Linked DNA regions of Homo sapiens. The protein of the gene in region 4 purifies or fractionates together with the protein of the main gene of each other region. This does not show direct contact. Each region holds a gene or a part of one and is shown on either strand. Other genes may lie near its edges.

Evidence for each region.
Region 1: the proteins of FLCN (region 4) and RAB3B purify together in Homo sapiens (affinity purification with mass spectrometry, with the first as the bait; one study listed by BioGRID). This does not show direct contact.
Region 2: the proteins of FLCN (region 4) and RAB11FIP1 purify together in Homo sapiens (affinity purification with mass spectrometry, with the first as the bait; one study listed by BioGRID). This does not show direct contact.
Region 3: the proteins of FLCN (region 4) and RAB35 purify together in Homo sapiens (affinity purification with western blotting; one study listed by BioGRID). This does not show direct contact.
Region 5: the proteins of FLCN (region 4) and BTBD1 purify together in Homo sapiens (affinity purification with mass spectrometry; one large-scale study listed by BioGRID and IntAct). This does not show direct contact.
Region 6: the proteins of FLCN (region 4) and RABL3 purify together in Homo sapiens (affinity purification with mass spectrometry, with the first as the bait; one study listed by BioGRID). This does not show direct contact.
Region 7: the proteins of FLCN (region 4) and RAB7B purify together in Homo sapiens (affinity purification with western blotting, with the first as the bait; one study listed by BioGRID). This does not show direct contact.

The regions. Positions count from the first base shown.
Region 1 is NC_000001.11:51,984,201-51,987,700, forward strand, and holds part of RAB3B (ras-related protein Rab-3B), read right to left. Parts: intron 1-3,500. UniProt on the Homo sapiens protein: The small GTPases Rab are key regulators of intracellular membrane trafficking, from the formation of transport vesicles to their fusion with membranes.
Region 2 is NC_000008.11:37,871,998-37,875,497, forward strand, and holds part of RAB11FIP1 (rab11 family-interacting protein 1), read right to left. Parts: intron 3,326-3,500; coding exon 2,518-3,325; intron 1,183-2,517; coding exon 1-1,182. UniProt on the Homo sapiens protein: A Rab11 effector protein involved in the endosomal recycling process. Also involved in controlling membrane trafficking along the phagocytic pathway and in phagocytosis. Interaction with RAB14 may function in the process of neurite formation.
Region 3 is NC_000012.12:120,099,754-120,103,253, reverse strand, and holds part of RAB35 (ras-related protein Rab-35), read left to right. Parts: intron 1-3,500. UniProt on the Homo sapiens protein: The small GTPases Rab are key regulators of intracellular membrane trafficking, from the formation of transport vesicles to their fusion with membranes.
Region 4 is NC_000017.11:17,230,669-17,234,168, forward strand, and holds part of FLCN (folliculin), read right to left. Parts: intron 2,234-3,500; 5' UTR 2,120-2,233; intron 1,215-2,119; 5' UTR 1,126-1,214; intron 1-1,125. UniProt on the Homo sapiens protein: Multi-functional protein, involved in both the cellular response to amino acid availability and in the regulation of glycolysis.
Region 5 is NC_000015.10:83,039,753-83,043,252, forward strand, and holds part of BTBD1 (BTB/POZ domain-containing protein 1), read right to left. Parts: intron 2,174-3,500; coding exon 1,976-2,173; intron 1-1,975.
Region 6 is NC_000003.12:120,701,017-120,704,516, reverse strand, and holds part of RABL3 (rab-like protein 3), read left to right. Parts: intron 1-3,500. UniProt on the Homo sapiens protein: Required for KRAS signaling regulation and modulation of cell proliferation. Regulator of KRAS prenylation, and probably prenylation of other small GTPases. Required for lymphocyte development and function. Not required for myeloid cell development.
Region 7 is NC_000001.11:205,979,396-205,982,895, reverse strand, and holds part of RAB7B (ras-related protein Rab-7b), read left to right. Parts: intron 1-3,500. UniProt on the Homo sapiens protein: Controls vesicular trafficking from endosomes to the trans-Golgi network (TGN). Acts as a negative regulator of TLR9 signaling and can suppress TLR9-triggered TNFA, IL6, and IFNB production in macrophages by promoting TLR9 lysosomal degradation.

The DNA.
Region 1 (3,500 bases), on a different chromosome or scaffold from region 4:
TTACAGTGAGCGGAGATTGTGCCACTGCACTCCAGCCCAGGCAACAGTGGAGACTCTCTAATTAAAAAAAAAAAAAAAAAAAAAAAAAAAAAAAAAAGCATGAACGAGACTTTGAAAACTCTAAAAAAACATCATTTCAGTTGACTACATTATATTCCATCCTATAGATGTGTCATAAGACCAATTCTTTTTTTTTTTTTTTTTTTTTGAGACAGAGTCTTGCTCTGTCACCCTGGCTGGAGTGCAATGGCACAATCTTGGCTCACTGCAACCTCCAACTCCTGGGTTCAAGCGATTCTCCTGCCTCAGCCTCCCAAGTAGCTGGGACTACAGGTGCTCACCATCACACCGGCTAATTTTTGTATTTTTAATAGAGATGGGGTTTCACCATGTTGGCCCAGCCAGATCAATTATTTAATGTTGTCACTCTCTTTAGGAAGTTGTTTTTAAGTTGTTTTTCTACTCTTAATTATTATACATGAAACTGCAGTGAACATTTCTTTACATAAATTTTTGTACATTTTCCTAATTACTTCCTTGAGAGAGATTCCTTGAAGTGGAATTGCTGGTCAAAGAGTCACTACTAAAACATAAATGTGATCTTTACCACAATTTCATATCCTTTATCTTCTTTTATCTCTAAATAAACCTGGGAAATAAAGCTGGAAAGACGTGGATTATTATTTCCATTTGATCAAGAAGGAAACTGAAAATGAGAAATTAAAAGGATTTGCCCAAATCTCATAGCTAACAGCCGAGACTAGACTTAGTACCCTGCAGTGTTATGAAAAAGTTTAAAATCAATGCTCTACCCTCAGATGAATTCTTAGGTAAGTCATATTGCCTCTCTAAGCCACAGCACTTTTACCTTAAAATAGAGAAAATACCACCTACTTCACAGAGCTTGGTACAAATAGAAAGAGTAGTACTATACGTAAACAATCTGACACAGTTTCTCGGCCCATGGAGGTACTGAATACATATTATTTCACTGGCCCCTTTAATTCACTTCTGCAGGCAAATCTTGTTCAACTGCCCTCTCCCTGATTGTGGCTCCATTATTTGGGCCTGTTTTACAATTAACTGTTTGCTCTCTCTTCTGGATTCAAGGGGGCTTTATCCATCCTTACATCTGGTCAACGCTAGACCTACAGTAAATCCTTAGAGGGTGTTATGTCTTTCAAGAAACACATATAGAGCATTTTTCAAGTGCCAGACTATCAGTGTAAATGTCAGATTACTGGTTTTCACTTTTCTGATGTAGCCCAGCTTCACACTCTTAAACTGCTAGAATTAGAGGGGACTTTGGAGTAGCAGCTTTTTATTGTAACAAAAAGCCTGGCTACTGGGCCCAGCTTTCCCAGTAACTCAGTGTGTAAACTTGGCCTAGTTACTTAAATTCTATGCCTCAGTGTCCTCATCTGACAATAATACTTACTTCACGAGGTGCTGTGAATTTTAAATAAGAGAACGTATATAAGTATGTTTCATACACTGTGCTGAGAAAAATACATGTAGCCTCGTGTAGAATCAGTGAGAAATTTGCCTGCCTTTATTAGCTGTGACTGCCACAGATAGGAGACTAGGAAGTGATGGCAAGAGTAAAAAATTGTTTCAGTTCCTGATCTACCTCCGTTTATCTTACAGGTAAAAAAAAAAAAAAAAAATTGAGGCTCTGCAAAGACAAGTGATTTGTCCAAGCTCACACAGCAAGTCAGTTGGAGGGTCATGAATGGAACTTCTGTTACCTAATGGCTTCCAGGTTTGACGGGATTAAGGAAAACGAAAACCACAACAATTTTAGGGTGAATAAAGAAGCATCCTGGCTGGGCATGGTGGCTCATGCCTGTAATCCCAACACTTTGGGATGCCAAAATGGGAAAATCACTTGAGGCCAGGAGTTCAAAACCAGCCTGGGAAACATAGTGAGATTCCATTTCTACGAATTTTTTTTTTTTTTTTTTTTTTGAGGCAGAGTCTCACTCTGTCGCCCAGGCTGGAGGGCAGTGGCGCGATCTCAGCTCACTGCAAGCTCCGCCTCCCGGGTTCACGCCATTCTCCTGCCTCAGCCTCCCGAGTAGCTGGGACTACAGACACCCGCCACCATACCCGGCTAATTTTTTGTATTTTTACTAGAGATGGGGTTTCACCGTGTTAGCCAGGATGGTCTCGGTCTCCTGACCTTGTGATCCGCCTGCCTCGGCCTCCCAAAGTGCTGGGATTACAGGCGTGAGCCACCGCGCCCAGCCAAAAAAAGTTTAAATTAGTCGGATGTGGTGGTGTGCACCTGTAGTCCTCGGTACTTGGGAGGCTGAGGCTGGAAAATCACTTGAGTCCAGAGGTTCGAGGTTAGAGTGAGCTATGATTGCACCACTGTATCCCAACCTGGGTGACAGAGTGAGACCCTATCTCTAAAAATAAAAATTAAAAAAAAGAAGCATACCCAACATCCTGAGTGTCCTGCTACCGTACTGTACTTGCCATACCACACTGTTAACATCTGCTTATGCACACACAGCATGGCTTTCCCAGTAGGTGGTGTGAGAACGGGGAGAGGCAGAGAGCTGAGTTCAGTTGGAAGGCTCATTCAGATGGAAGCCCCCAAGGGGATCTTCTTAGGAGGGGGCGGCCAGGGGCTACTCAGACATTTGGAAGACAGGCAAAAAGCATCCCAGCAGGCAGCTGCCTGAGGCAGATCTAAGCAGACAGGTCATGCACAGTGGTGCATGCAGAATTGCATTTGTAAGATAAGCATCAATCAAATCTTTCCTCTATTTTGTGACAGTCACATAAAATGATAGAGCTATCTCCGTGACAAGCAATACAGATGAAGGCCCAGGGACCATCTGGGAAGTCGTCCCTGTCCCAGGCTGGGGGAAAGAAATGACTCCTCAAAGGGTGGCTGTGAAAAACAACCCTTTCAGTCTGATAGGCGGCAGAAATAAGCACCTAAGGAAGAAGCCAACTTCAGCCAGGAAAGAGCGGGGAGGAGGAGGAGAGAGCCCTAAAATCCAGCGAGAAGAGATCAGCTCAATAAATGGAGTGAAGAAGTGAATGAAGGAACTTACCTTTTGTTGCAAAGAACATGAGACTGAGTCCAAGAGACCTGGCATTTGAAAGATAAGCCCTGGCTCTTTCAGTGATCCTGTAAACTTAGGCAAATCACACCCCTGGCCTCAGTTTCCTTATCTATAAAAGGAGCTCATAAAATGGCTTCCTGGCAAAACTGTTGCAAGAATTAAAACCTGTATATGGGAGGGTGTTTTATTAACCCCTTATTTTGTTTGTTTGTTTGTCTCTGTGCTTCATGGTTTCTTCTAGCAAGTCATCCTGTGTAGTGGAAATAGTTTGGAGCTCCAAATCAAACAAACTAGATTCAGTTTCCAGGTCTATCATTTATTACCTATGAGACCTTGGCAAGAAATGTTACATGATTAAGACAGTTTCCTCATTCATAAAACAAGTGTTGTTGGGAAAATTATAGGTAATGTGGGTTATAC
Region 2 (3,500 bases), on a different chromosome or scaffold from region 4:
GACAATAAACCTTCGTGGTCACTGGCTTTGCTCTGATACTGAGTCACAAGGGCATCCTCTCCCTCCATCCTAAAGAGTGGAGTGTCTTTCGCTGAGCTTGCTTCACTCATGGGGACTTCGGAGAAACTCTCCTCCTGGGAGGGGAGGAGGAGGTGATCCGCTGGGGAGGCTGGCGCACCACACGTCGCTGGCCCAGGTGTGGTCACCGATTCCCTTTCTGAGTCCTCTGCGTGGGGAGACTCAGGAGGCTCTCCGTCAGACGCGTTTCCAGCAACAGACCATGCAGGGTTCAGCTCCTGGGGACAACTGCTGTGTCCTTCCACCAGCAAGGCAGCCCCCGCCACTGCCTCTTCCGTGAAGAGCTGCTCAGAAAATGACACACGCTTCTTGGTTTTCTTCTGGTCCTTGCGGAGGTTCAGACCCATCTCTTCCAGCTTCCGCATCATGGAATCAATGGAAGGGACTGATGCTCCCATGGGAAGAGGGGGCGCCACTTCTTCAGCTGCATCCCTGGCTTTGCTCTCCACAAGAGACCCAGCCTGACTCTCCAAGTCTCTGTCTCCTCCTGCTGCAAGCTCCCCAACAGGGCTCACAGCTCCATCACTGCTGAGTGAAAGGGCAAACGGTACTTCCTGGGCTTCTCCAGATGATGGGCTGTAGTCTTGTTTTTTGCAGGGGAATCTCGGAAGTTCTTCCTCTTGTCGCCCTGTTTCAGGCTGCTCTGGGAGAGACTCCTCCAACTCAAGGCTGCTGGTGTTCTTCTCTGTGCCTGTCTCACGGGTCCTGCCCATCAGAGAATCTTCTGTCCCTTTATTTGCTGGAAAGGATGGCTGTTTGAAAAGTGATCCCAGGGCAGAAGAACCAGAATTTGGAACCGGTGTTAAACTCTCAGTTTGCAACTCTGCCTTAGGGAGCAAGGGTGGTCCTTCAGACTTGGCCTGGCCCCTGTCTACGAGAGGCCAGCTTTCAATTGGAGTGGATGTGGAAATGGGAGCTGCTATGGGAGATGAGAGAGAGGAGAAGACAGAAGGACTCTCAGAGGACTGTGTGTCTGCACCATGTCCCAATTCAGAGGGGACAGATGCCTGGCCAGAGCTAGAAGGAAGAGGAGGAAGAGAGGAAGGGGAGTCAGTAGGGGAAGGAAGCCTGGCTGTGGGTTGCGCCTCTGGAGACACTTCCAGTCTGCAAAAAGGACAAAATAAAATCTGCAGGTCAGTGCAGATGCATCACGAGAGACAAAGAAAATACACAAAAACAAGTCATTCACCAGGGGAGAACGTCTTTACACGTGGGGCAGTACCTTAAGAAGTTAAAAAAGGAACGCTAGCCGGGCGCGGTGGCTCACGCCTGTAATCCCAGCACTGTGGGAGGCCGAGGCAGGCGGATCACCTGAAGTCAGGAGTTCAAGACCAGCCCAGCCAACATGGTGAAACCTCATCTCTACTGAAAAATGCAAAAATTAGCCGGGTGTGGTGGTGTGCACCTGTAGTCCCAGCTACTCGGGAGGCTGAGGCAGGAGAACTGCTTGAACCTGGGAGGTGGAGGTTGCAGTGAGTTGAGATCGTGCCACTGCACTCCAGCCTGGGCGATAGAGGGAGACTGTCTCAAAAAAAAAAAGGAACACTAACACTTAACATACACAACAGACACTTTTATAACCAAGCAGATCCGTCACACAAAAGTCTGTTGCAATAGAAATGAAAAGATCCCGGTAAAGCAATAGCCTCTGGTTTCTTGTGGTGATTAACACAAGGCCCGAGCATTTGATTATTACAGGACAAAATGCACCTAAAAGGTTTAAAGTGGTTAAAGATGTAACACAAAGCAACAGGCACAGATAAGTTTAAGAGGAACAGTGTGTATGTGTGTGTATATGTGTGTGTGTGTGTGTGTGCATGTCAAAGTAAGCAGAATCTCTAAAAAAAAAAATCTCACTCCCCAGACCGCAGAAATATTGTCAGTATGAATGTGATCACACAGAAAAGCAGAAGTCCCCAAGGCCAGTCCCCAAGGCTTATGCCGGCTCTTACAACAAGGGGCAGAGTGGACACAAAGAACCGTCACTGTCACTTGAGAGAGGACCGAGGGTCTCTCATACCAGAAACCAATGCCAAAAGGCAAGGAGGCAGGATAACATCTGGCTCAAAGGGAAATGTGAGATAAGAACTTCGAAAACACAGGTTCTGCATACACTACAACCCAAACTCAGTATTCCCAACTTGCAACACCCACAATCTGCTACAAACCACTGCGTTCCACTGAGATCTGATAAGCTGACTGAAAGGACAGACCATGCCTGCTGGGCAGTAGCTCTGAGCTGGGAAACATCACTGCAATTTATACAGGGCAGGCCAGGCTGGCAGTAGGGACTGGTTAAAAAAATAATTTAGACCAGCAAACCTTTGGCATATATGGGTACTATGATATCATGGGACCCACAAGAGCTGGTCTAACGTAAGCCTGAAAACCACCAATGGCAAGGCAGAAATGCCCTGCACGAGAAGAGCCAAAACTCACCGGGGCTTGACAGCTCTGGTCTGGGGAGCCCTCGGAGAGGAAATTGGAGGTCTCGGTTCAGACTTGGACTCTGGCTCAGCTTCTGGTTCTGTGATCTGCACATCTTCAAAGAGGTTCAGGGAGCTGCCCTGTCTGGAGACAACAGCTGCAGTATCTTTCTCAGATCTTCTCACAAGGTCTTCAGCAGGCCCCGATGCGTCCTCCCCCGGCTTAACCCCCATCAGCATGCCTTCCTTCTCCCTCCCTGGGACCGTGAGAGGGTTTTCACCTTCACTGCCCTTAGCCACATCCTTCTTCCCCGTCATCAGAGACAGCAAAGAGGACCTCCTGCTCTCTGGCTTCTTGCTCTCCTTAGCTTCTTTTGTGGCCTCTGAGTTTGCGGGGGCCATGTTTTCCCTGAGGTCCCCACTGACCAGTGGGGCAGGTCGGTAGGACGGCAGGGTCATAGACTTCAAGGAGTCCTTGGTGGAAGATTCGGAGAGCTGCCTGTCAGAAGACAGCCCACCTCCTTCAGCAGGCTCCTTCCAAGACCCAGCCGCCAGGTTCTCTGTAGAAGAGAACAAATGCTTCTTTCTGAAGCCCTTGGGGGATGGGGAGGAGGACGGGCTGCTATCCTTGATCTCACCCTTGGCTTCTGGCTGCTCCAGGTAAACATGGTTCCCATTGATGCAGACATTAGAGCGGGAAAGGACATCATTCTTAGACCGAAGGCCACCAAGAAAGGAAAGTCCTTCCTTCTTGGGAAGGGTAAAGTTGACCTGGTTCAGTTGCTTAAGATCCGTACTCGCTGTTCTCTTGTGAGACATGACTTTGGGAAGAAAAAGAACAGAAAGGGGATAAGATGTTAAACGGGTGGTTTGCAGTGTAGGGGCATCTGTCAACGTCTGGATACATTTCTGGTTGCCACAACTTGGAGGGGGTGTGCTGCTATTCGTATCCAGCAGGTAGAGGACAAGGATGATACTGAACATCTTACAACGTAT
Region 3 (3,500 bases), on a different chromosome or scaffold from region 4:
GGGGGGAAGCTGGGCTCCTGCGCAGATGGGCAGTGTCCTTCGGAGCGGCTCCTGGTTATTGGGTTGTTAGTGGAGCAGGTTTTAGGAAAGAGCAGGGTCTGAAGGGGCCGATTTGGAGCTGTTGGGCTGTGTGTCCTTAGGCAAGTTGCCGAAGCTCTCTGCGCTCGTTTCCTGGAGGGCCTGCCTCTGGGATTGGCTTCCATGTGGAGGGTGCCAGGTGCTCTGCTGCAGGCGTCAACGTGCGTGCCGGGGTGTGGTGTCTGGCAGCTCTGTGTGCTTGGTGCTGCTGTCATCCCATTTGACAGAGGGCGCCCTGGAGGGGTCCCTCCCAGCGGCCAAGCCTGTGCTCCACACAGTGGCCTGTGCAGAGTGAGGGGCGGCTGTCTGGCTCCACGGGCACCTCCTTGGCTCTCTCGAGCAGCTCCTCTGGAAGTGACCTCAGGAAGGCGAATGAGGAAGTCCCAGCCAGCGGCCCCCTTCCTTCCCACAGCATGAAAGCCCGGCACTCCCCAGGCTGGCTGCCCCTGCCCCCGGGCCCCTCGGCATCTCCCGAGGGTGGGAAGTGTGGGGTGCAGCGCCCCCATGGATGGCTGGGAGTATGGGGGAGAGCAGGGCTGCTGGAGAGGGACAGGTGTGCTGGGCGAGCAGCTCCTGGGGCTGGAGCCAAGGCGGAGGGCTTGTCACTGGGTTCACCCTATGCTGAGCACATTTGTGCTGTGGCCCGTGATGCCCGGAATCCCTGGGAGCTCCCAGTCCCGGGGTCGCCCTGGTGTGGTGCTGTGTGGTGACCGTTGATGAGCCCTGTGAGCGAGGGCTCTGTGGCCTGCATGTCTTGGCAGCTGCCAGTGAGAATCTGCGGAGGACACTGGGGCAGGGCTGGCATCAGTGCTTTGGGCAGCCTGGGGCTGCAGGCCCAGGCGAGGCAAGCCCTCATGCCGTTGGCTGGTCTGGGCGCTGACCTCATGAATCCTTGCTCTGGGTTGGTCCTGTCGCTAGGATTTCAGCTGCTTTATTTTGGTTAATCCCGGTAGAGAGACCTGTGACTATCTCCATTTTATGGACAGGAAAACAGGCCCAGGGAGGATGAAGCCTCCTAACTCAGTGGGGCAGAGGTTGGGGGCACTCAGGGTTGGCCCTGAGTCTGCCGAGGCCCTGCATCGACTGGGCAGGTGGCGCCCCTGCCTTCCTGCCCCGTCCTGTGCCTTAAAACCAGGCGGAGGTTCAGGGTGGCAGAGGTTCAGAGGCCCGTGGCCATGAGGAATGAACTCCTGGGCAGGGCAGTGGGGCCTGGGGGGTCCGAGGCTCTTTCAGCAGGAGGAGCCACAGCCCCTCCCTGCCATCATGCAGTCAGCTGCTTTCTGGGCTGGGCAGAGCGGGAAGAAGGTGAACTGGTTCCTCCATTCCGTGGGGAGGCGGGGAGGAGTCACTCAGCTTCCTGGGAGCAACATGGGTTTTTCCCCAGGGGCTTGGGAAGGGGCGGCCTGTGGGCAGCGGCTGGGCCCCTGCTGCCGTCCCACGTGTCTGGGGAAGCAGACAGGTGGCTCCATCTTAGAGTCCCGCTCTGGCCCTCATGAGGCAGGAGGCCCAGCAGGGCGCCCTGAGGGGCCACTGGAAGTCTCGACGCCCTTTGATGGTCACTGGCAAAGAAGGAAGGAGTTTTGGGGAGGTGAGGAGTTTTCAGGAATAGGGCAGTCAGGATGCAGTAGCGTGACTTTTTTCCGATGCAGGGCGTTCAGAGAGAAACTGAAACTGCATCCTGTTAGCCTGGCGAGAAAAAGCCTTGTGGTCACCCCTTCTCGGGTTCTTGCTCTCAGAAGCTGAGGTTTGCCGGCCCTGAGAGGTGCGGGTGGGATGGAGGTGAGGGGAGAAGTGACAAGGAAGGCAAGGCCCTGGCGTTGGGCCTGGGAGTCAGCCCTGGGCGCCAGGACTTCCAGCTGGCCGCTGCACTCAGCCTCACGTCCTTGCTGGTCACATGGCCATCCTGAGGTCTGCTGGATCAGGTGGCTGCAGACATTAATAAGGTAATGGATACCAAGCCCCCAGCTCTGTGCCTGGCCTAGAGCAGAGTCCCTGTGAGTGAAGGTGATTCCTGGTGGCCATGGGAAACGTCGGTGCTCCGGTTCCTCCTAGCCAGAGCTCTGAGCCCCTGACTTCATCCCCAGACAAATTCTCTGCTCTCAGATAAAGCCCCTTTCCTGGGCCCCGGATGAGGCAGAGGCGCCCAGGGAGCCGCGGGGGCTGTGCGCCGGGGCCATGGCTGCAGGCGTTTCTTGGCATCTCTGATCATCTTCAGCAAAGGAGAGTCTGCAGAGCCATCCGCTCCTTGGGCTTCCTCTGCTGGCAGGGGACAGTCGCCTGTTCCTGTGGCTCCGGCGCGCCCTCGCTCTGGAAGGCGTCTGACACACCATGCCATGTGCTGACCCGGCGCTCTCAGCAGCAGCTGCCAAGGCCAGAGCTAGTTCTTGGGCCCAGTGCCAAGAGAGCTTGATCGTCACAGCTACCCCGAAGCCAAGGAGCGACGCTGCCCTGGAAGCAAAGCTGTGGGCAGAATGAAGCCCTGGGAAGAGATCCCAGCGGTCGTGTTGAGGATGGAGCAAGGATGGGGCAGGGGCGGTGGCAGGGGCAGGTTGGGCTTTGTCCCAGGGCTGGGCAGGAGCTCTGGCTCTGCAGCATCAGGGAAGATGCTCAGGGCTGCCCCTAAGCTGCCTGTTGGTTTCCTTCCACCACCTCTGTCTGGGACCACAGATTGTCCTTGAAGGCACATTGATGATGCTGAAGAACGCATACTGACTGTTTACTGCTCCCCCGCCTTGGGGTAATGCTTAGCTCCTTTCTTCCTCATGACCACCCCAGTTAAGGACTAGCCACCTGTGTGCTATAACTGTTGAAGCTGCAAGGTGTGGCAGGGTGAATGCAGGCACCTTCCCAAGGGCCAGCCTTTCAGAGATGGAGCCAGGGTTGGTCTTTGTCCTTAGATCGGGCCTCAGATGTGAAGCATTGGCCAGAGAGCTGATGGGCAGGTGGACAGGAATGGAGCTGCAGCCACAAGTCAGCCTGGCTGCCCCATTCTTGCTCAGCCTGCGCTGACTTGGGCTGTTCCTGAACTGGGGCTTGGGCTGTCCCCATGAACCTCATGGGGGTGGAGGTAATTAGGGCTGGGGCAGGTGGCAGCCAGAAAGCCGGGAGGAAGCGGCCTGTCCACTCATGGTTTGTCTGTGTGCTGTCCTGAGGAGCCCTGGGGTGGAGGTCCCTGCGGCTTTGGGGAGAGGGGACAGAGGGACAGCTCTGGCTGATTGCACAGTGTGGGGCGGGGCTGCCGCCTGGCCTCCGGCTCTTCGACAGCTCTCGGGGAAGCGGAGGCTGTGGTCCCCCTCCTCCTCCGGGGATTGATGTCGTCCTGTGCCACTGGGATGAATGGGGACATGGGGTCTGGAGAGGAGAGTTGGGCCTCCCCTTCCTTCTGGCCTTCCTGGCTGGCCCTGGGCTCTGCATGTTTGGGG
Region 4 (3,500 bases):
TGAGCCAAGACTAGGTCACTGCACTCCAGCCTTTATGACAGGGCGAGACTCCATCTCAAAAAAAAAAAAAAAAAAGTAGCCTGGAGTGGTGGCGCACGCTTGTAGTCCCAACTACTTGGGAGGCCTAGGCAGGAGAATCGCTCGAACCTGGGAGGTGGAGGTTGCAGTGAGCTGAGATCGTACTACTACATTCCAGCCTGGGTGACAGAGTGAGTGAGACTTCGTCTCGAAAAAATTAAATAAATAGGCTGAGTGCGGTTGTTCATGCCTGTAATCCCAGCACTTTGGGAGGCCGAGGTGGGCAGATCACTTGAGGTCAGGAGTTCAAGACCAGCCTGGCCAACATGGCAAAACCCCATTTCTACTACAAGTACAAAAAAAATTAGCCAGGCATGGTGGCGCACACCTGTAGTCCCAGCTACTCAAGAGGCTGAGGCGGGAGAATTGCTTGAACCTAGGAGGCGAAGGTTGCAGTGAGCCAAGACTGCGCAACTGCAGTCCAGCCTGGGCGACAGAGAGACTCCGTCTCAAAATAAATAATGAATTAATTAATTAATATATTAGCTAGGACAAAAGCTCAGCCCTTCTGTCTCACCGGCCATGTCCTGAGTGTTTGCTAGGCACACACGACTCACGCCACCCCTCTGAATAGCCCAGGTCACAGAATATTTCTGCCTTCCCAGAAAGCCCCATTGCTTTCTGGGTGTGGCTGGCAGGGAATGGAGGGCTGGTGCTCAGTAGGTGCACTCCGAGAGGGAGGCAGACAGGCAGCGGGAGAGGAAACAGAGTTTCAATAAAGGGCCCAAGTCAGACTTGCTTGGGACGATGAAGAATCATGTAAGTTTCTGAATGTTTGACTGAGTAGTGGACACTGGCCAGGACCCAAAGCCTCTTCTCTTCTGGGGAGCCCCCACCCCTGTTACGGATCCAAAAGTCAGACGTTCTGTCTTCGCTCCTGACAGGCAGGCTGTGAACACAAACAAGGCATGGCCTGCCAAAGCCGCTAACTCTAGGAAGAAGCAAAGGACGATGTGCATGGTGGTGGGGGGTGCTGCAGCCAGCCTCTCTGCCGGCGGCCCATGCCTGGAACTGCTTCTTCAGCATGCCTGCGAATGCACCACCCACCTGACGTTTCTGCAGTTGGCTGCTTAGCTGCACGAGCTGCTCCGGCACCTGTCCTCCTGCTGAGATACGGCTGAGCACGAGTGGTCACACTGGGAATGGCAGAGGCAGACAGAAAACAGACATTTGAAGAGAACCTTAGCTGGGCTGGCAGTGAGGCAGGTGTGGGAGTCAGAGAGGGAGACCCTGGGTGTGGCTGGCAGGGAATGGAGGGCTAGTGCTCTGTAGGTGCACTCCGAGAGGGAGGCAGACAGGCAGCGGGAGAGGAAACATACGCATTTAACAGATGGCAGAACTTCTAGCTGGAAGGCCCTGAGAACTCAGCAAAGATGCAGGCTGCAGGACAGGAGAGGGCAGGGCTGGGGACAAAGGTCAGGAATGCTCCACACACCGTCACCTGGCTCACTCCTCACCACTCGGCCTCCACTTGCTCCCCTGCTCAGAGTACCCCTTGCCAGCCCACCAGAAGAGCTCCCCTCCACCCCGACACCCTCCCCTGCCCTGCTTTGAGTCGTAGCGCTCCTCATCGCAGAACTGCGCCTCCAAAGTGCCTTCCTGACACACAGGAAGCGCCACATTCACGTGTTAGATAAATGAGAGGACTGAGAAGTCGCCCTTGGAAAGATGACAGCTGTTGCCAAGAAAGGGGCGGAATCTAGGGGCGGCAGAGGTTCAGGAGCCACAGCTGTGGGGAAGGCCGGAGCCAGAGTCTAGTGGCACAGGAACCAAACAGACAGTTTCAATAAAGGGCCCACAGGGTTCACTATGATGAGTGGCTTAAAAATCTACTGCTCAACAGGAGATGGGGCGACCACTGATGGAGTAAGGGGTAGCAGGACCCAAAGGAAAGGTAAAGGCATTAAACTGCGAAAAGGAAGGCCACGCCTTTCTCTGAGAGGCATCAGGGGAAGAGAAATAAGGTTCCTTCTAGCAAGACATGCACAGGACAGCAAGCCTGGGCCAAGTCTCAGCCCACCTGCAGAGCACCCACACTAACCTGACACTCAGCAGAATCACGCTTCCACCGTCCACACCAGACCACCACACACGAGGCTGCTGCCAAATGGGTCAGGCATGGTGGTGGCAGACACCCTTGAAGACCTGGCGTTTTCTAGGTAAGAGAAAAAAAAAATTAGAGCTATTTCTAAGATTAGAGGCCTTCGTAGCATGAAAAATAATGGGAGCAGCTTACAGCCAGTCTCAAATAAGAACGTGTCTGATGAGGATGTAGACACTCCCCAGGGTTCTGAATGGCTTAGCAGGCCTCTGACCTTCTCAGCAGGAGCTGACATTTTAGCTGAACTCTTGCACCTCTGAGGCACTCTAAACCAGTATTTGATCAAGGATCTCTGTATTTATTTTTTTAGAGATAGGGTCTTGAGGCCAGCTCAGTGGCTCATGCTTGTAATCCCAACACTTCGGGAGGCCAAGGCAGGAGGATTGCTTCAGCCCATGAGTTTGAGACCAGCCTGGGTAACACAGTGAGACCCTGTCTCTACAAAAAATTTTTAAAAAAAATTAGCCAGGCCGGGCGCGGTGGCTCACGCCTGTAACCCCGGCACTTTGGGAGGCCGAGGTGGGCAGATCAGGAGGTCAGGAGATCGAGACCATCCTGGCTAACATGGTGAAACCCCATCTCTACTAAAAATACAAAAAAAATCAGCCAGGCATGGTGACAGGCGCCTATAGTCCCAGCTACTCGGGAGGCTGAGGCAGGAGAATGGCGTGAACCTGAGACGCAGAGCTTGCAGTGAGCCAAGATCACGGCACTGCACTCCAGCCTGGGCGACACAGCAAGACTCCATCTCAAAAAAAAAAAAAAAAAAAAAAATTAGCCGGGCATGCCTCTAGTCCAAGTTACTTGGGGGACTAAGTTGGGAGGTCACTTCAGCCTGGGAGGTCAAGGCTGCAAGTTCCCATCTTTCCTTTTTTTTTTTTTTTTTTTTTTTTGAGACCAAGTTTCACTCTTGTCACCCAGGCTGGAGTGCAATGGCGTGATCTCAGCTCACTGCAACCTCTGCCTCCCAGGTTTAAGTGATTCTCCTGCCTCAGCCTCCTGAGTAGCTGGGATTACAGGTGTCTGCCACCACACCTGGCTAATTTTTGTATTTTAGTAGAGACAGAGTTTCACCATGTTGGCCAGGCTGGTCTCGAACTCCCGACCTCAGGTGATCCACCTACCTCAGCCTCCCTAAGTGCTAGGATTACAGGCATGAGCCACTGCATCCAGCCAAGTCCCCATCTTTCTTACTCTTGGTTATAAGGGGGTGCTCTGGCAGCATCTACATCACACCAACTTACTTTTCAGGCCATAGGCCTGGCAGTTTCCTTCTCAAGCAGGAGAGGGAAACCAGAGGCAACGCTGACAAGCCACTTCC
Region 5 (3,500 bases), on a different chromosome or scaffold from region 4:
GGGTGACAGAGTGAGGCTCTGTCTCAAAAAAAAAAAAAAAAACCACAAACAACCTCCCAAAAAAACCAAAAAACATAGAACTACCAGTCAACCCAGCAATCCCATTACTGGTTATATATCCAAAAGAAAAGAAAATGTTCCACCAAAAGACACATGCACTCATATGTTCATCACAGCAACGACACTGACTCAACCTGGGTGCCCATCAGTGGTAGACTGGGTAGAGAATGTGACACACACACACACACACACACACACACACACGGACACACACACACCACAGAATACTATAAAGCCATAAAAAAGAACAAAATCATGCCTTTCGCAGCAACATGGATGCAGCTAGAAGCCATTATCTTAAGTGAGTTAATGCAGAAACAGTAAACCAAATACCGTATGTTCTCACTTGTGGAAGCTAAACATTGGATACACATGGACATAAAGATGGAAACAATAAGCACTGAGGACTGTTAAAAAGGGGAAAAGAGGAAGGGACAGAAGGGGGAAAAGAGTTAAAAAACTAACTACTGGACACTATGCTCACTGCCTAAGTGATGCAATCAACTGTACCTCAAACTTCAGCATCACACAATATACACATGAAACAAATCTGCACGTTACCCCGAATTTAAAATAAAAGTTGAAATTATTTTTTAAAAAATCATGAGAGCTAGGCACAGTGGCTCATGCCTATAATCCCAGCACTTTGGGAGCCCGAGGTGGGCAGATCACCTGAGGTCAGGAGTTCAAGACCAGCTTGACAAATATGGTGAAACTCTGTCTCTACTAAAAATACAAAAATTAGTTTGTGGCGGTGCACGCCTGTAATCCCAGCTACTCAGGAGGCTGAGGTGTGAGAATCGCTTGAACCCAGGAGATGGACGTTGCGGTGAGCTGAGATCGCACGACCGCACTCCAGCCTGAGCAACAGAGGGAGACCCTGTCTCAAAAAAAAAAAAAAAAAAAAAACCATGAGACTTTTCTTTCTTTTGAATCAATCTGGCCGTGATTTAAAGGCAGATAATAGTCAATTATGACCTGGGTAATGAAAACAGGTCAGAAGTGGTCATGGAGACTCAAAACAGATCTGTCTGATTTTAATCAGAAGCATCGACCTTAAGAGTCAAACAGAGGCTGGGCGTGGTGGCTTACACCTGTAATCCCAGCACTTTGGGAGGCTTGAGCCCAGGAGTTCAAGACCAGCCCTGACAGGATGGTGAAATCCTGTCTCTATAAAAAAAATTAAAAAATTAGCTGAGCATGGTAGTGTGCACCTATAGTCCCTGCTATTTGGGAGGCTGAGGTGGGAGGATTGATTGAGCCTGGGAGGTGGAGGCTTCAGTGAAATGCGTTTGTGCCACGGCACTCCAGCCTGGGTAACAGAGGAAGACTCTGTCTCAAAAAAAGAAAAAAAAGAAAAAAAAAAAAAGCCAAAAAGATCTGTCATAACCTGGGGTAAGGCACTCAACCTCTCCCAACTTTACTTCTCTAACCTATACAATGTGGATAATATAATTTTGAAGGGCTTAAAATCATACACTCGCATATATGTTTGTCATGTGATTAGTACTGAATAAAAGCTTCTTTTCCTCTCTGGCGCAGGGAGACTGATAGAATTTTTTTTTTTTTTTGAGATGGAGTCTCGTGGAATCTCGCTCTGTCGCCCGGGCTGGAATGCAACGGCATGATCTCGGCTCACTGCAACCTCCGTCTCCTGGGTTCAAGCGATTCTCCTGCCTCAGCCTCCTGAGTAGCTGAGATTACAGGTGCCCACCACCATGCCTAATTTTTTGTACTTTTAGTAGAGACGGGGTTTTACCATGTTGACAAGGCTGGTGTCGAACTCCTGTCCTCAAGTGATCCACCTGCCTTGGCCTCTCGAAAGTGCTGGGATTATAGGTGTGAGCCACCAGGCCCAGCCCTGACAGACTATTAAAACAGTTTCAAATAGATTTTGGTGAATTTATACCCTTACCTGCTGCAAATTCCTCAATTGTCATCAGTGGGAACCGGATTAAGGAAAGTGCTTTTCCTAGAACTTTTTGTTTATTCCCAAAAGTCACAGGTAATTGTTGTCTCTGACATTCTGCTTCTGCCCAGCGTACAACAGCTCCAAAAAGTCGACTTTCTCGAATACTGAGTGTGTCTCTCTCTAAAACTGCACAGAGTGTATCTATAGGCAAAATACAAAATAAACCCAATTAGAAATATTTTAGCTCTCTAACCAAGCAATACCAACAGACACACTTATATTAAGTTTTCAGATCTCAACAAAAAATAGGTTAGACACTTAAAACTACAGACTTTATACTTTAAAATACTAAATAATTAAAGGACTTAAACTCCAAAGTGTTCCATAAAAATCAGTTTAACAATCAATTTATTACTTACCATACATGCAATATTAAGATACAGTACTCTCCTTATATATTTATGCCATTTATCAAGTAAACTCAACTATCCAGAATAAGATTAACAAGCCACAGAAAAAGGTTCCAATTACATAAATTCTTAAAGTCTACAGATTATAATTCATTCGTTCATTCAGTAAATATTTATTATTAAGCACTACGTGCCAGGTACTATTAGGCAATTTTATATATATATATATATATATATATATATGTATGTATATATTTTGGATATAGAGTCATAGAGTCTCATTCTGTTGCTCAGGCTGGAGTGCAGAGGCACAATCTCGGCTCAATGCAACCTCTGCCTCCTAGGTTCAAGCAATTCTCCTGCCTCAGCCTCCTGGGTAGCTTGGATTACTGGCACGGGCCACCACACCTGGCTAATTTTTATATTTTTAGTAGAGACAGGGTTTCACCATGTTGGCCAGCCTGGTCTCAAACTTCCGACCTGAAGTGATCTGCCTGCCTCGGCCTTCCAAAGTGCTGGGATTACAGGCGTGAGCCACCGCGCCCAGCCAGCACTGATATATCACTGAACAAAAAGTTAAAAATTCCTGCCCTCATGGAGCTTACATTCTAATGAGGAGAAACAGATTAAATAAACACAAGTAAATTCGAGTATCTTAGATGATATACATGGGCAAATATGTCAGGTTAAGGAGAATCAGAAATGCAGTTTAAAATAGGAAGGGGCCAGGCATGGTGACCCATGCCAGTAGTCCCAGCAATTTAAGAGGCTGAGACAGGAGCATGGCTTGAGCCCAGGAGTTTCAGGCCAGCCTGGGCAATATAGTGAGACCCCATCTCTACAAAAAAGTTTTTAAAAATTAGCCAGGCATGGTGGCATGCACTTGTAGTCTCAGCTACTCAGGAGGCTGAGACAGCAGGATCACTCGAGCCTGGGAGGTTGCAGGCTGCAGTGAGCCATGATCATGCCATTGTACTCCAGCCCAGGCAACAGAGTGAGACTGTGCCAAAAAATAATAAAATAAAATAAAATCGGGTGGTTTAGGCAGGCTTCACTTATGCCAAGACATGAAGGAAGTGGGGGAGTAAGCCAAATAGATACCTAGAGGAATAGTATTC
Region 6 (3,500 bases), on a different chromosome or scaffold from region 4:
ATGTCTTACTCCAATCTTAGGGGGAAAGCATTCATTTCACTATTAAGTATGATGTCAGCTTTAGGTTTTTTTTGTTGACATCATTTATCAGGTTGAGAACATTTCTTTCTATCCCTAATTTGCTGATAGTTTTGTTAATATCATGAACAGATACTGAATTCTGTCAAAAGCCTTTTCTGCATCAATTGATATGGACATGTGGCTGCTTCTTTAGGCTGTCAGTATGGTGGATTACGTTCACTGATTTTCAATACTGGTGGATTACATTCACTGATTTTCAAATATTGAACCAGCCTTCCATTCCTTGGTCATGGTGTATTATTCATTTTATGTGTTGCTGGATTTGATTTGCTAATATTTTGTTGAGGATTTTTATCCATGTTCATGACAGGCATTGGTGTGTAGTTTTCTGTTCTCATAATGTCTTTGACTGGTTTTGGTGTGAGGATAATGTTGGCCTCATAGAATTAATTGGAAGTATTCCTTCCTCTTCTATTTTTTGGAAGAAATTGAGTATATTTGGTGTTATTTCTTCTTTGAAGGTTTGGTAGAATTTACCAAGAGACCATCTGGGCCTGGAGGTTTCTTATTTGAAAGGTTTTTAACCACAAAGTCAACTTCTTTAGTAATTAGGATTGTTCAAGTTATTTATTTCATCTTGGATGAGTTTTTGTAATTTGTGATTTTCAAGGAATTCCATCTATTTCATTAAATTTTTTAATGTATATCAATAGAGTTGTTTATAGTATTTGTTTATTGTCCTTTTGATAGTTGCACAGTTTGTAGTGATATGACCTTTTTCATTCTGATTTTGGTATTTTATGTCTTCTCTTTTTCTTGTCAGACTTGTAGAGGTTTATCAATTGTATTGATTTTTTTCCAAAGAAGCAACTTTTGGTTTCATTGATTTTTCTCTATTGTTTTTCCATATACAGTTTAATTGATTTCTACTCTTATTTCTTTCCTTCTGCTTGCTTTTGGTTTATTTTGTTCTCTATAGCTTCTTAGATTACTTACTGGATACCTTGCATTTTTGCCAATACAAGTATTTTAATGCTATAAATTTCCCTCTAAACACTGCTTTAGCTGCATCCTGCAAATGTTTAAATGTATTACTTTTATTTTCATTTAGTTCAAAATATTTTCTAATACTCCTTGAGATTTTCCCATAGGCTGTTTAGAAATGTGTTGTTTAGTTTCCATGTATTTAGAGGCTTTCCAGTTATTTTTTGCTATTGACTTCTAGCTTAATTTTATTATGATCCAAGAACATACTTTATATGATTTCACTTATTTTATATTTGTGCAACACCCGGTATGTGACCTGGGTGTTGTTGTCTCTGTTGTTTCAGTTTTCAGTGTCTTTGGTACACTAAGTAGGATCAAATCCATGCATGCACAGCTTTGGCAATGAGCTCAAGCATTCACGAACTACTTCATGGGGTTGCTTTCTCACACTTCACCCTGTCTACAGTCTCTGCCATACTTTGTGATTTGCTGGGGCTCCCTTTTTCGGTCCCCAGGCCAAATTTTCTCATGCACTTGCACAACTGCACCTATGTCCAGGGCCAAGTGGTAGAAGGACAAAGAATAAAAGCAATGGGAGTTTGCCCCACTGTCTTGAGATACAGTTCCATCAGTCAGAAAAATTTCCCTTCTGGGCCCGGCGCGGTGGCTCACGCCTGTAATCTCAGCACTTTGGGAGGCCAAGGCGGGCGGATCATGAGGTCAGGAGATCGAGACCATCCTGGCTAACATGGTGAAACCCTGTCTCTACTAAAAATACAAAAGATTAGCCAGGCGTTGTGGCGGGCGCCTGTAGTCCCAGCTACTTGGGAGGCTGAGGCAGGAGAATGGCATGAACCTGGGAGACGGAGCTTGCAGTGAGCCGAGATCACGCCACTGCACCCCAGCTTGGGCAACAGAGTGAGACTCCGTCTCAAAAAAAAAAAAAAAGAAAAATTTCCCTTCCTCTGTATTTGTAAGCAGGCGTTCCCAACCCCTGGTCCATGGCCTGTTAGGAACCAGGCCACACAGTGGGAGGTGAGTGGCAGGTGAGTGAGCATTACCATCTGAGCTCCACCTCCTGTCAGATTAGCAGAGGCATTAGATTCTCATAGGAGCGTGAATCCTATTGTGAACTGTGCATGTGAGGGATCTAGGTTGCAGGCTTCTTATGATAATCTAACTAATGCCTGATGATCTGAGGTGGAACAGCTTCATCCTGAAACCATCCCCCAAACACCTGTCCATGGAAAAATTGTCTGCCATGAAACTAGTCTCTGGTACCAAAAAGGTTGGGGACTGTTGTTTTTGAGCATTCTGCTTGTGTTATAGCCTTTGCCACAACTGTCATGAAATTGCTCAGAAGCTGGCTTACAACAGAAGGAAAAATATTGTATTTCTACACTATCTCCAAGTATTCGTGTGTCCCCTTTCTTGTTTCATGAGCCAGAACTATAGGCCTTCTTCTGGAGTATTCTGTTCACACTTTTGGGTTTTAAGCTGAGTTGCATTCAGACAAGGGGATATGGAAGGAAACTGCTAATTCAATGGTTCTTCACATTGCAGTCTTCCTTAATATGCTCACTATTAATTTTTCAGAGTCCTCAAATAGCCACTTCATGTATCCTGTCCAGGTTTTATAGTTGCATTCACTGGGAAAGACAGGATAGAGTTTGCTTATTCTGTCTTACCTAGAACAGAACCCCATTTTCTATCTTTTGATTGAAGCAAGTCTTTCAAAGGCTTTGTTTTCTGTGTGGAAGTCTAATTGTTATGTGAAACCTAAATATAGTATAAGTTTGAGTATATATATGTAGATTCCAGCAAGACCTAATAAAGAATAAGCACAACTAATTTAAAACCTATATTTCAAAGCCTCATTGATATTTATTTCCTATCTCAATTCCTTTCATCACTGATGTCTTCATTAACCTAGCTTGTTCTCTATTTTCTACTAAAATTTCTACTTAAGAAACTTATCCTTAAATTTAGGGTTAGGAGACAGCATATTCATATCAGAAAGAAATCTGCATTTTTGTCAGGGAATTCAGTAAAAGTTCTATACCCATTTGCATTTTGACACTACAGTTTCATTTTGATTCTATAGATAAACCTGCAAATGTATAAAACAACCTTAATACATTGGTGTGCTTTGTTGGTGCATTATTGTATAGCATCAAAAAATTTGGAAACAACCCTAGTGTCCGAGCAACGAAAGATTCATTGAATAAATAATGGCATATCCACATACTGGAGTAGTATTCAATGTTTAAAAAAGAATCAGGAAGATCTCTATGAACTAAAATAGAAAGATCTACAGAGGGTACATTATTAGGTTTAACAAATCAAAATGCAGAGAATATATATCGTATACCTCCTATTGTATAAGAAAGAAAAGAAATAATATGTATTTATATTTGGATAAAGAATCAGTGAAAAATAAGAAACTAATAAAAATGGTAACCTATAGGGGGCCAGGGGAGATGGGTGGATGG
Region 7 (3,500 bases), on a different chromosome or scaffold from region 4:
TTAAGATGAAACAGAAGTTTACAAATACAGATTTTGAGGTCAAAGAAAAGTTTTCAGAGGCATTTCCTATAAGGAACTTGCCTTCCTTCCCAGGGAGATTGTGGGCTCATTTGCTCCAGCCCAGGGTGTTTTGAGAGGAGAATGTGGGAGGCGCTTCTATAATAAGGAGTGAGCCCCCAGCTGGGGTGGAAAGAGCTGGGCCTCTGAAGTCGGAACGATCTGGCTTTATACTCAGCTCTACCTCTCATTGTGTGTCCCTGAGCAAGTCATGAAGCCTCTCTAAGCCACCACTTCCCTAACTTTAAAGTACAGATAATAATATCTTCCCTATGAGGTTACTGTGAGGGTTAAATAAAATGCTATTGTAGTGCAGAGAGGGCATTACATGCTGTTTTAAAATGGAGCTGCATCATAGGGTTTTCAGCAAGGGAGCTTCGTGCTGCCGAGAGGATGAGCGCCATGGGTGATGATGAAGAGGCTACTGCAATAGTCCAGGTGTGAGAGGATAGAGCTGGCAAGGTGAGGGTGAATTAAAGAGACTTTGGAGGTAGAAACATCAGGAGCTGATGATGATCAAATGCAGGGAGAAAGGAACAGGAGCAGTTTAGGCTGATGACCAGGTTTCTAGCTTGGCAAATGAAGGGACAATGGATTAGTGATTCCATGAGCCAAGCAATACGGGGAACAAAGGAGAAAGCAGGAGCTTCATGAGAGAAAGGGATAATGACGTCCATGTGAGCACATTGCATTCAAGGATCCTCGAGACACCAGGTGGAAACGTCTGAGTTCTGCAAGTGAGCCTTGTAGTAAAGAGAGCAATATGTGAGGCACCTGCTGAGAGCAGAGTAGGTGTTCAGTTAACATACTGAAAGAGACCGGAGTAGGTGTTAACATTGTGAAAGAAACCAGAGTAGGTGTTCAGCTAACATTCTGAAAGAAACCAGAGTAGGTGTTCGGTTAACATTGTGAAGGAAATCACAGTAGGTTTTCAATTAACATTGTGAAAGAAATCAGAGTAGGTGTTCAGTTAATATTCTGAAAGAGACCACAGTAGGAGTTCAGTTAACATTGTGAAAGAAACCAGAGTAGGTGTTCAGTTAACATTCTGAAGGAGACCACAGTAGGTGTTCAGCTAACATTCTGAAAGAAACCAGAGTAGGTGTTCAGTTAACATTGTGAAGGAAATCACAGTAGGTGTTCAGTTAACATTGTGAAAGAAACCAGAGTAGGTGTTCAGTTAATATTCTGAAAGAGACCACAGTAGGTGTTCAGTTAACATTGTGAAAGAAACCAGAGTAGGTGTTCAGTTAACATTCTGAAAGAGACCACAGTAGGAGTTCAGTTAACATTGTGAAAGAAACCAGAGTAGGTGTTCAGTTAACATTGTGAAAGAAATCACAGTAGGTGTTCAGTTAACATTGTGAAAGAAATCAGAGTAGGTGTTCAGTTAATTATCTGAAAGAGACCAGAGTAGGTGTTCAGTTAACATTCTGAAAGAGAACAGAGTAGGTGTTCAGTTAACATTCTGAAAGGAAAGGTAGATTACTTTAGTAACCAATTTAGCCACATTCAAGGATTAGGTATTTAGTTGTTCCAAAATATGACGAAGGATGCCCTAATAATTAAAGAAGAGATATCCACCAGCTTTGGAAGATATGGGGTGGTGAGGTTTTGCTCCAGAAAGTTAGCAATGCTGGCTGGGCATGGTGGCTCACACCTGTAATCCCAGCATTTTGGGATTACATCCGGCAAGGCAGATGGATTGTTTGAGCCCATGAGTTCCAGACCAGCCTGGGTGAAACCCCATCTCTACTAAAAATATAAAAAACTAGGTGGGCATGGTGGCACATGCCTGTAGTCCCAGCTACTTGGGAGGCTAAGGTGGGAGGATCACCTGAGCCCAGGAAGTCAGGCCATGGTGAGCCATGATTGTGCCACTGCACTCCAGCCTGGGCCACAGGAGTGAGACCCTGTCAAAGAAAGGAAGAAAGGGGAAGGGGAAGCGGAGGAGGTGAAGGGGAAGGGGGAGGGGAAGGGGAGGAAAGGGGAGGGAAAGGGGGAGGGGAAGGGGAGGGAGGGGGAGGGGAAGGAAAAATTAGCAATACCATCCCTGCTGGGGCTTTTCAGGCCCAGCTCCAGTAGCATGAGATATTGCCTAGAGGCCCAGTTCTTTTGGGGTTAATTGGAAAAAGACAGAATCACCACATCCAGTGGAGGGAAGTGGGCTGGCTGGCAGCTGCTCAGTGAATCACAGCAGCTTTACATGGTCCTCAGGATGCAGGACTTAAGGCAAGGCCACTGAGGTGGCCAGACTGGGGGAACAGAGACAGACTCCCACAGTCACACCCCCACTGAAATGCTGCAAGCATTGGAATAGTGTTGTATTACTTGTACAGTTAGATTCACAAGTTGTCAAGAGGCCTGGGGCCTGGAGAACAGAATGACATAGAAACCTAATTATGGCCTGGAGGTTTTGCAGGAAATCTGAGGAACAAGATGCTGCCATTGTCAAGTGAAAATGATGTCATTAACGGAAAGAGCTCAGCGATGACTTGCACCCGGGGAGGGTGCAGATGTCATTAGGGCAACACTAGCATGAAAACCTCAGGCTTTGCCCATGCAACAAATGAGGACATTTCTCACACCTACCCCAGATGGTGCTCACTCTGCTAGTCCCAAGATCCTACCAGGGTGGGGGGTGAGAGATGGGGGATCCCCAAGAAACCAACTCCGTGACGAAGGGCTGGACCCAGGTTCAGCACCACAAGCTCTGTGCCATCGGGGTACATTACTGCTCAGTCTGGGGGTGGCAGTGAGTGATGGGGTGTCAGAGGATCTTCTTATGTATTTGGGGGCACCACCATCATCAAGGTGCAGGAGGCAAGGCTGGACACCACCTCCTGAGGTCTAGGGTCATGAGCATTAAGGATTTGGTGGATATTCACCAGCTGGGTGTCTGGCCTGAGCCTGGGAACTGCCGGGGAGATAAAATCAGAGACAAGGAGGCAGCACCCCTGTCCCTGGAAGTTGCCCCCTGAGAAGGACACTTGAGATGGACTGCCAGGGACAATTTTGCGTGATACACAGGATGCTCTGCCCCTGCTCAGGTCCATGCCAATGTAGCACAAACCCCTTCCACGTAGAGTGAATGCTCATCACTCACCCCGAGGCCCACAGTACTGGCTGTGGGAGGAACATGAACGCGATTGAGCTCTGTGACTAGCAGAGGCCATAGCAGCGTGAAGAGATGGGATCCCTTGAAGAAGAAAGTCTTCAGCCTGAGGAACCCATCTGCTTAAAGAAGGGCCCCCTCCTCCATACCACCCCAACCCCTGAACTGGGGAGGGGGGGCAGGCTCTTGGTGAGAAGTGGAGCCAGCTGGAAAGGCAGAAGCTTGGCAGACCGAGAAGGGGCTTCCTCTGGACCCTTGTTGGGACAAGAGAGACTGGAGAAGCAAAAGGGCCCGGGAGAAACATTGAGTCCATTTTAGGGAGGGCTGC